Linked DNA regions of Homo sapiens. The protein of the gene in region 2 interacts with the protein of the main gene of each other region in a pairwise test. Each region holds a gene or a part of one and is shown on either strand. Other genes may lie near its edges.

Region 1 (7,303 bases), on a different chromosome or scaffold from region 2:
GAGGAGAATGGGGTACATTAGGCTAAAGTGACAGTTTGGGGGAACTTGATCTTCCTACTCCACAGGAGCAATACTAGGTCTTGGGTCTAGAAATGGTTAATTCTTCAGCAATGCTTGCAGCCTTTCATTATGCAATATGCAGTTGTCACTCTATAAAGTCAGTCCAAATATGAATGAACACAATGAGAACCACATGACTTGTACACACAAAAAAAGAAGTCTTACAAACAATCATAGTAAAAAAGCCAGAACAACCTACAGAGAAAAAATAAAAGCTTGTAGTTTTTACATTTTGAAATAATCATACTTTTTGGAAAACAGCACTTCCCTCATTTTTTTTGTGAGATGGTTTTAAAAGATACGGAGATATCGCAAGACAAAAATACAATAAAATAACAACAAGAGAAACAACCTTATACTGTACCTTTCCTTCAGCAAATCATATGCTGTCTGACAGTCTCTGGATTCCTTTTTTCTCAAAGCAAAGTTACTTAAAAACTGATTTTTCATGTGGCTTTGCAGGAAGTTAACTTTTAATAAACCATTTCTTGCTAAGCTTTTCTTAGCACATTTACTCAATTCCATACTTGAAAGCTACAATGCATTTCAATAACTGAAATGTATGGGATTTTATTCTAATATTAAACTCAAAAGGAAGAACTGAGACAGTCCTATGGGCATATTACTGCAGCCAAATGTGATTCACGAAGGCACTGATATTCTATAAAAGTGATTTCAAATATCAATGTATATACACGACTAATGGAATATGACCTAACCAGTCAAAATAGGCTGAATCTCATTCCTGATGTTATATCAATGCCAATAAAATTAGGAATCATATAACAAAAGCATATGGGCAGAAAATAGCTTTCTCTTATGTAAAATTCAAGTGATGGTCAAGAAATAAGATGTAATACAGTGTTTCTGATGGGTCAATGGCAAAGGTCTGGAGAAATATATTCCAGGTTTGGAGTCTTTATGGGCCAGAAACTGTCTCATAATTCCTAAATGTGACCAAATGGGAGGAATATAGGTTATTGCTCACAAGAAGAAGACGAGATGGGTCAGTATGAATACATCTCCAGCGCCAGAGGCATGGGTCAGATCATAGCCCCAGGAAGGTGGCTGGTTAGTGGGAACATCTTCACATATGACAAATTTTTGCATCCTTACCTTTAATTATTCTTTGATATTCTTTTTCATCTCTGAAAAAAAGGCTATTTTAACAGAAGTTTGTAATATCAGATTCTTTTACCCACACGAAGAAAGATAAGTGGTAATGCAATGGCGGGTGATAATGCAATTATGAAATGATGATGTATATTTCATTTTGAAATGCAGTATATGTTTCCTTTTTCTTTTGCAGGAAGACAGTTCTGGGATCCTAGGAGCATCCAATTTGTATTCAGAATTTCATTTGAGTAAGATTAACATTTAAATAGTTTGTAGTCCCTTGAGCTCAGAGTACAGTGAGATACACATACACACACTATACTATCTCTCTCTCTTTCTCTCTCTCTCTTTCTCAAGCCCTGGATATCAATTCAAAATTTGTGTGATCATTGATGTGTGTGTGTGTATATATATACACATACACAACCCTAGAACTTAAAAACTCATTAAGAATCCACAAAATAGATAACCCACACAGTGATAACCTAGAGTGACTTCCTAAACTGTGGCTGCTGGCTAACCTAGTTGATAATAACAAATACAAAGTATCCTTTTAGCAATAAGAGAGTCTTTTTGCTGCCTCAGACAAAGCTTTCTAGCTTGCTCCTTGTCCTTTGGAATTCTAGGCTGACCAACACTGAGCGGAAGCCTCACCTGGGACTTCAGGAGAGAATCTTGCAGAGTGTCGAGATACAAAAAGTTTGAGTTCTTGGTCCAAGTTGCATTCAATCAGGTTTGTGTCCCATGATCGGATTCCTAGGGAGGGAAAGAAAGACAGTTGAGAGACTTCCAGTTAGTCATTTCAGAGTGGTTTGGACAACATCACTGTAATATTTCTCAGGCTTTCAGGGAGGATGTGGGAACTCCTTTTCTGAAGAGCTTGGTGGCTTAGCAGTGGATGCCCACAAAATGGGAGGGCCAGGGAGGTCTCTCCACCAGGCCACAAGGGAGGGATAATTAGCAGTGTGGACTGAGCTTCTGCCCCTCATAAAAAGTAAATGCACCTCTTCTGGAAGAGTCAAAGAAAACAGTTGTTAGGAAAATGACAGGCTGTACTCCAGGGAGGGACTAGAAAGGGCAGGAAGATGTTAGTTCTTAAGAAGCTAAGAGGCCAACAGACTAACTCTAGCTTGTAGACAGACTAACTCCACTTGTAGGTGGCAAGAAAATGTAGAATAAAGGCAAAGAAAATACACGGGGGCTGCCATTCAAGCACGGGCCTTTGTTTCTAAAATGATGTTCTGGTAGTATACATGTGTAATTTCTTTCCTTTACCAATCCCGTTTTTGACTTTGGTTTATCGAGCCCTGGATATCAATCCAAGATTTATGTGATCTTTGATAAACAGAGTGGATCCACTCAATCTTCAAGACTTGGCCTGTCTGTCCTTCCAGGCACTTTTCTGTTACCTGAGTAGCTTGGCAGGCAGCTCTTTTATTCACAATTGTTCATTGTATTCAATTTTCTTATCCAGAGGCAAAGAAAAATGGCAACTTTTTATACTTTATAAAACATTTATGGAGTTGGGGACATGAATCAGCTATTCCTACCCTAGGCTGAACGGAAAGGAAGTCCTATCAGACTTCCTTTCCCTAGGCTGAAAGGAATATCCAGGGTGAGAGGAACAGGAGGGCAAGAGGCGGGATGAGGGCAGCTTCCTGTGCTCATGCCCTACTCTCTAGCCTCTTCCTTCCTCCTCCCACTGTCCTCTTTCTCCTGCCCTCCCAAAGGGGATGGCCCAGAGGGAACCCCAGAGAGCATCATAGAAGGGAGGTCTGGAGAGTAAGCCAGGGAAAGTTGGGGAACCCCAGAACTCTGGTGTGTGTGTGTGTTTTACATGTTTACATATTATATATTACATTTTTCCTAATAGGTTGCTCATGGTGGAGCCAGTGTGTGGTATCCATCATTGTACCTTTGTATACAGCATTCTCAATTGCCAGGAACAAATCTCTAGAACAACAGACATTTATTGCATACCTCCTAAAGGTAAGGGCTTGAACCTCTAGGTATAACACAGCAGGTGAACTATCTCTAAATTAACACCCAGTCATGTAATCATTTTTGTTGGACATTAGTCATGTATACAGACTTGAAGGAATAAATAGCAGTGTGTTACTTAAATACACACTGGATCCTTAAGGCATATTTGTATTTACCCTTGGTTATATTGTATTCAGTCTTCCTATCCTGTAAAGAATCAAGGTGGATTATACATAGACATTACAAAAAAAAAAGATTCTGGAAACTCAGTTCACTGCACATCTAAAATATCTTTAGATTACACACCACAGACCTTTTCAACCAGGAGGAATATTTTCAAATAGATGTGTGTCCACTAAATACAGGCAGAAATTTCTCATATGATCAATGGGAAGAATTCAGATGTGGAAGAGTTAACGTGCTTAAGGAAAGGTCAAATTATAAGGGAGAATTTTATGGCTCTTCCTGGAAACATTAATAGCCTCAGTTTGCATTTGTGCTAATGGAGTATTTGAATTTTAACAAGAAAGGCATGTTGAGATTTCGCAGATCTTTTTAGTGCAGAAATGATAAATGGGTTCTTTTTGTTTCACAGAGAGCTTGACAGGTTGAGAGGTCTGAATTCATTAGAATATTTTACTTCAATGTATACACTATATACTAGTCTAGTGCAAAAAAATCGAGTTCCTGTCTGAGCTGCTTAATTGGTATTGTTGACTGAATTCTCCTTGTTCCAGGTCTGAGCTCTACTTTGTCTTCTACCCTGTCAAGCTGGGTCAATAAGTTAATAATGAGACATATGCATTTAAATTAAATTCATACAATTTTTCTGTCTTTGTTCTAAGTAATGTCTAAATTGGTACATTATTTGAATGACTTCATCCAGGGTTATCTGCAGACTTGCTCTTACATTGTTACTTGCCATTTTCCCTTGGCTTCAGTTAACTTGTCATGGCACACACAATTAAATGTTTGCTTTATATTTTCATACATATTTTATTTTTGACATATTTGTAATTTAGCAATAGAAAAAGTACTAAATGATAAATCCACTTAGTAATTTCTAAATTATACTAGTAAACGGCTGATAAAAATATTTCTCATTTTTACACTCCCAATGAAACTAAAAATGTAGGGTTCTTTTTTCAAGAGAGCAATTTCCACCCAAATTGTTTCTTAGCAATGCACAACCACTACTACCACTTATAAAATAAAGGTTATGTTGGATTTGCCAGCTATTTTAGTTGGAAAGGAAAATTTTGGAATCAGGCCACTTTCCATACCAATTTTAGAAATAAAATAATTTGTAATTACTTTGTATCTCCTGCTGGATAATATTGGTAAAGGCAAAGAGTAGTTGTTAATGAAGGTTCATATTGCATTTAGTAGGTTTATGTAGTTCCCCTTTGTGCCTAACAAGGAGCCAACAGTGAGCCCTCTAAAGTTTACAGGACAGAAAAATATCTCTTTGGCCCTTCCCATATTCTCCCCTCTCTGAATCTGGCTGGAGGGCATCCTGGGGTGTTGGTGAAGAGGTTCTAAAGAGGCTTTCAGAAGCAAGTCATCCTGGTCTCTGTTGGGGAGCAGGGAAGCCCTCTTTCTAATTTTCACCCCAATATACACCAAGTCAAGCTCTTCCTGGAGGCTTTGTTTCCCCAGCATTCTAAGACTGTACCCCTTCTGGGCTTACCCAGGTGGGGGCAGAATAACTCCAGGCAGTTGGAGGCAGTGAACCCCATTCTTTCAATGTCTGGAGCCAAAAGGCATCCGTCATCTCTGAGAACAATCTGGGCCTGCTCTGTGGCTATTGCCCAGCCCTGAAAGTGAGCTCCTTGGGACCAGGGAGCAACAAAAGATCTTTCCTTCTCAGTTCTCTGACCCCAGGTGGTAGCAGTGCACACAAGGGAGGCTGACATGCACATGATATACACAGATGAGAAAAGGAGAAAAGAATAGGTTATGGGGCAGGGAGGCAGGGAGGGGTCATTAAAGAACAAGTCAGGGTGAAAAATGAGGAGAAGTCAGGTACTCTTGGTGTGTACAGGCTAGATTGTTCCAAGTTTTCCAATCATGTAAGCATTTTGCAGGGTTGTTTAATGAAACCAACAATTTAAAAAAGCACCTCCCATTTAAAAGCTAAAATTCATATTTCTAAAGGTGACAGTGGATTGAAGAAAGCAAAATGAAATGACCATGCATTGTATGTTGATGGCACATGGGTTCTATCTGACAGTTATTTGGGCCTTTGGCAAGTTGATTTTCCTTTATGGGCTTTAGTTGCTCCCTCTGAAAAACAGGCTTTTGGATATTTTTTCCAAGTACCTAAATCATTAACCTAGAATCATAAGATTATATTTGTAAAACTATGCTAAAAAGTGGTCTGAAATCAGATTGAAATCATAAACTAAATAAATGAACTAAAGGAAATGCTACATTTAGGAATGCTTTATTTCTCAGAGGAAAAAATTCTTATTTTTTCCCTTGAACTCATCTTTAATTTGCTTTTTTTCTTTTTTTAAAGCCAGCAACTTGATGTTCATAACATATGTATGTAATGACGATAATATCTTACATACAGAGCTCATAGTTTCAAAGCATTGATAATAAATAATTTAGGTCTGAGATAACATCTTACAACACAAGCAAATGAGAAGTGACATAATTATTTGCTTGTCTAAAAAGTTATAACTTATTTTTTTAAAGTAAGCCCTTAGAGAAGGTGAACAATTTAATGACCTTAAATTTGGGGACTGCCTTGTGTTTCAGCATGGATCACAGAGCTGTCGTAGATAATACCAATTAAGCAGTGCAAGCAGAAATCCATCTGTCTTCGACTTTGAAAAGTATAGGCAAATATAGTAAATTTAAGACTCTCTAACATTTAATTCTCACCACATATGGTATTGGTTTCTTATTTCCCCTGTTAAAAGAAAAGGAAAACTAAACCCCAAATCTTTCCTGGGTTTTAAATTCTCTTACCATCTTAGACTGAAGGACATTCAGTTAAGTGACATCAGAATGTAACAATGTAATCAGCTAAACTTTTATCTAAAAATGCAGAGCAGTAGATGTTACATTCATCTATCTTTTCACCAACAAATCTTGCTGATTCCCAGTGTTAACTAAAGGAAAAGTTATAATCTAACGGTAATTGAAAACATCCAACAGACACTTAATATTCTTTATATGTTTTAGTTCCTTAAAAAAAAAATGAAACAATGAAAACGTTCACAAGGCTCTAGAATTCAGTTTGCAAGACACGGATGTATGTCCTCTATGTATTAAAATAAAACCAAGAAGCAGGGTTTTGCTGAAAATGAGAACCACTAGCTAAATCCATGCTGGGGGCTAATTAGGGAGGAGAAAAAGGAGGTGCCAAAGAGTAGTAGTTGGTGGTAGCGAAAACGATTTGGAATAAAGTCCTGCATAACTAAATAAATGAAGCTAGCCTAGTCCGAGGAAACACTATTGTTCCAAACTCTGGAGGAGACATGTCCAAAGCTTTCATTATGCTTTCCGAATATAGTTGAGAAAGCAAGAGGGACCATCTCTCTTCCCTGGTTTCAAGAGGCATTTACGAAGCATCCACATTGGGACGTTCCAGGCCTGTTGATTTACTGCATTACCACCATGTCTCTACAGATTTATAGATTATTTTCTAGGCTTCCCAGAGAGCCCTCAGTAATCGGATGGCAAGAATCCAAGTCGCCAGGGTCTCCAAACCCAGAATCTCAGTTAAGGCAGGAGGGGAAATAGGAAGAAAGAGTAACAGATGCGGAACTGCCTTCCCAGCCTGCAACACACAATCATCAGAGCTGGCCCCCCTGGAGCAGCTCCATCTTGCTTCACACAACAAGGCCCAAAGGCACCAAGCAACAACAGCAGTGGCCTCTGGAGGAGGCCCAGCTGAGACCTGGCGGCTGAAGCAGCAGCTTGTCGTGCACAGGAAAACAGGACCAGCCTGCTCTGTTGCTAAGTCATCTCAGACTGTCTGAAAAGCTATGGGAGCAGGATTTTCACTTAGCGCTGGAAGGGCCTGCATCTTGAGCTGCAGCCAAGACCCCAGAACCCAGGAGAGCCATCTTCAGAGGAAAAGCAGCATCTGCTACGGTGTGTAAAGAAACGGCTCTGCTCACTCACTTGG
Region 2 (3,651 bases):
GACCTTATGGTAGAGTTGCTAAGCTCTTTACCCCTTGCCTTCAGTGGAGATCTGTATTTGAATTATCTTTTTCAAGTACTACCAATCTTTGTAGGTTTATTGTCTCTGGACAGCGCAGTAAGAGGGAACTAGAGAAATCTGCTTTCTGCAGATGGAATTCTGCCTCATATTACCAAGCCCTTAATATCAAGGTCCTCTAGTCCTCCGAAATCTATTTTCTCTCTGTCTTCTGAGGAAAGCCAATTTGAAACCATTTTTCAGGGAAGACAGCAAGGAGACTTATGCTGACGGCGATGGAGAGGCTCAGGCAGTCAGCCATGGAAAGACTCAGGCAGTCAGCCATGGAGAGACTCAGGCAGTCAGCGATGGAGAGACTCAGGCAGTCAGCGATGGAAGAGGCTCAGGCAGTGACTGGGGTGTGGCTGCTAAGGGACGGATCTAACATCACAAGCCACGGTCTAGGAGCTGACACCCACACCGTGTAAATGACAGAAACGACAACGTTTCATTCTTAAATCAAATCAAGCTGTATTGATAATGATGATTTAGCAGGAACCACTCTAAAAATCAGAAACAATTAGAATGCCTTCCCCATCAAATTATTTTATTAGGTTAATTAAACAGCTTAAAGATGATTCCTTTTGTGTGGTACCCTTCTAGAAAATATTTCAAGTTTTTAAGTGAACTTCCAATACATAAAACAAAATTACTTTAGCATACACAAATTTCAGATCAAAATACAACACTCTGTTTCTGTTTTCTTACAGTTATAAAATCCAGTCAATACAAACTACATAAAAAAGATAAAACACTTTCACTGATCCTTGGTACAAGAGAACAGCATGATGGCAAAATGTTCCCCAAGCACAGGTCCTGGGTTCGTGAGAAGGGACCAACCCCACAATATACTGAAGCATGTAAACAAAGTGCGTGCTACTTAATTTAGGTTAACAAATCCTTTTTGCATCAGTATTACTTGTAAACCATAAAGCAACTTTTAAAAAGAAAGGTTATTAATTAAAAATTACTTCTGACTGCTAAATTTCTTATCAGCAAGTGAACAGAAAATTATTCCACAAAACAAACTAGTACCTTTGGACCACAGGATGTGAGACGTGACATTTCAATGAAATCAACTTAGCACGACTTCTCTACTATCCTACTGAACTTGGGGAGTACAATTTTACAAGTTGCAGCCTTCTAGCACTTCCAATATTTTGAACTTTCTAAACCTGCCTATTTAGCTATGATTTTCATTGCAAATCCCTGTTTTTCAGTAGTAGGACTTTATTAAAGATAGGATAATATCACACACAATACAATCTTCACTGAATATGTGTCTAAGCAGACCTACTTGGAATTCTACTAGATAATAAAGTTGCAGGATTTAAAAGAAATACTATTCTGCAGGTCCCATGTCAGAAAACACAGATATGTTCAACAGATTGGTGTGGTATTTATATGGTATTCGTGGCATTTTCCTTATAGTATTCAAAGCATCAAAATGACAAATCAAGACTGTTAAAAACCAGTCTTGGACAAGGGTGACAGTCACATACTCGAGGGTCCAGCACAACACTGGCATGAGCCAACAGGAGCCACGCCGGCCACCTGCTGGGCCAGGGACCACTGCAAAGAGCAGCCCTGAATTTGGGAGGGTCAAATCGAATTTACAAATCTTGTTTTCAGGAATTTCCTTGATAGTTCTCTTTCATGGCAGAAGACCTATACCCGTGATGGAAAACAAAAGAATGTACACATTTCTAGTGTGTCATGAATGGGTCTCACTCACAGATAGGTACAGACATCACTGTCACTGCTAACACACAATGAAGTCTGCCTACGCCTACCTGAGGAGCATCCGCGATACCGTTTCTGATGAGGACAGGACTCTGCGGAGGTGGGCAGAGCAGGGGGTGCTTTTGTCAGCTCTGCTGGTCACTTCCAGGCTGCTGGTACACACCCCAACAGTGGCTGCAAAGATTGTTCAAAACTTCTGCTGAGGCCACAATGATTACGGGATGGTTGTCACAATTCACAAAAGGTATGATACAAAAAACAAAGGGTATCACCATTACGTCGCCGGCGAACTGAAGGGGTACAAGACCGAGGAACCAAACACAAGCTGAATTCAAAACGAAAAGAACCCCAGTGGCAGAAAAAGCCACGAATTATTTAATGAAGCAAGTTGTGCTAATAAACAGCCTGTGCTTTTCTTAACTGAAGGTCACTTGATACATTTCCCAACACACAATTTTTATTCAGATTATCTTTGTTTTCATGGAGAGCCTGAATTTTGAGGTACGATCTAGGAAAAAGATGTTATCACCCACACAAATGGAAGGCTCACTTCTTTACTTCTTAAGCTGATGATACCCTTTTGCCCGCCCCATGTACCAGATCCTACATGATTTTTTAAAATAAAACATAAGTCAATTTCAATGAGCATATGCTAGACTAACAATAAATTTATTTTTTGGAGTTTCTTTTGAAGCACAAATTCCTTTTAAAAAAAATATGAAAAGGTGGTCTCTCCTGGAAACAAGCAGTTCTAGTTTCCGATCCCACAACGATTTGGAACATAGTGTGTTTTTAAGTCAGAGCTGAAGAGGAAAGAAGGAAACAAGGGCTGCGCTCCGCTCTGGCGAATGCGAGCTGCAAAGGGACAGAGGAGGACCCACACGGAGGGTCCCCACCCGGCTCTGCGGACAGACATGGCAGAGGGCCTGTCACACAAGAGGCCACCGGGCCGAGCACGTCCGGGAGCCTGGGGCTGCACTGGGTGCTGAGGTAGTGAGCGGGGCCTGTGCCTGCCTGCCCTCCCGGCTTGGAGGGGGAGCCCTGAGGGCCTCTGGGGCTGGCCTGGAAGGTGTCATTCTAGCCTACAGGTGCCTAAGGCGCTGGGATGTGTCCTTGGCGGTGCCTCAGAAGGCACCTGGGTCCAAGTTCTGACCTGGAGCCTTGGGGACAGATCTGACTCTCACAGCCAGGGCCAGCTGGTTGTGGAAAGTGCTAGTATGCAGGTCTGCTCAGGGATCTGTGAGGCTCATGCTCTGGCCATTATGTGGTCTGAAGAACCAGAAGGGCTATTCTCCTCGCCCCCAACAACCCGCCCCAACTGCACCTTTCTTTTCCTTTTTATTTTGGATACATAATTCAAGCAGTAAAAAAACCAGGCTGGAAGAGGGTTGGGACAGAGGAGCAGAGGGCAGGGTGGGAAAGCTATCCCAAGAAGAGTGAGTAAAAACAACGACTCCGAACATGGCCAAAATACCCTTCCTCCACCTTGACGGCAATCCCTAAGCTGGCAGAGAAAGATGCGCCGACTGCGAAGTGCCTGTTTTCTCAGAGATTCCACCTAGCAGTGTCCATGGGGAGCCACAGTGGAACATGGAGAGAACAATCAAGGCTGGTTCAAACGAAAGGTTATTCACCAGTGAAAGAAACGGGGAGAAGACACAGCCGGCTAGCTCTGAAGACATGGTGTGCATCCCAGCCTATAAATCTCTAATGATCTTGATCCCGTGTTTCCCCTATTTCTGAGCAGACCTTTTTTTTTAATTTTTTATTTTTTTGTGAGACAGAGTCCCCCTCTGTCGCCCAGGCTGGAGTACAGTGGCACAATCCTGGCTCACTTCAACCTCTGCCTCC

What was found.
Region 1: the proteins of GAN (region 2) and MAP1B interact in binary tests that used the Homo sapiens proteins (3 or more experiments, as listed by UniProt).

What each region holds. Positions count from the first base shown.
Region 1 is NC_000005.10:72,110,327-72,117,629, reverse strand, and holds part of MAP1B (microtubule-associated protein 1B), read right to left. Parts: exon of another isoform or gene 4,143-7,303; intron 1,933-4,142; coding exon 1,831-1,932; intron 1-1,830. UniProt on the Homo sapiens protein: Facilitates tyrosination of alpha-tubulin in neuronal microtubules. Phosphorylated MAP1B is required for proper microtubule dynamics and plays a role in the cytoskeletal changes that accompany neuronal differentiation and neurite extension.
Region 2 is NC_000016.10:81,387,742-81,391,392, reverse strand, and holds the end of GAN (gigaxonin), read right to left. Parts: 3' UTR 584-3,651; downstream 1-583. UniProt on the Homo sapiens protein: Probable cytoskeletal component that directly or indirectly plays an important role in neurofilament architecture.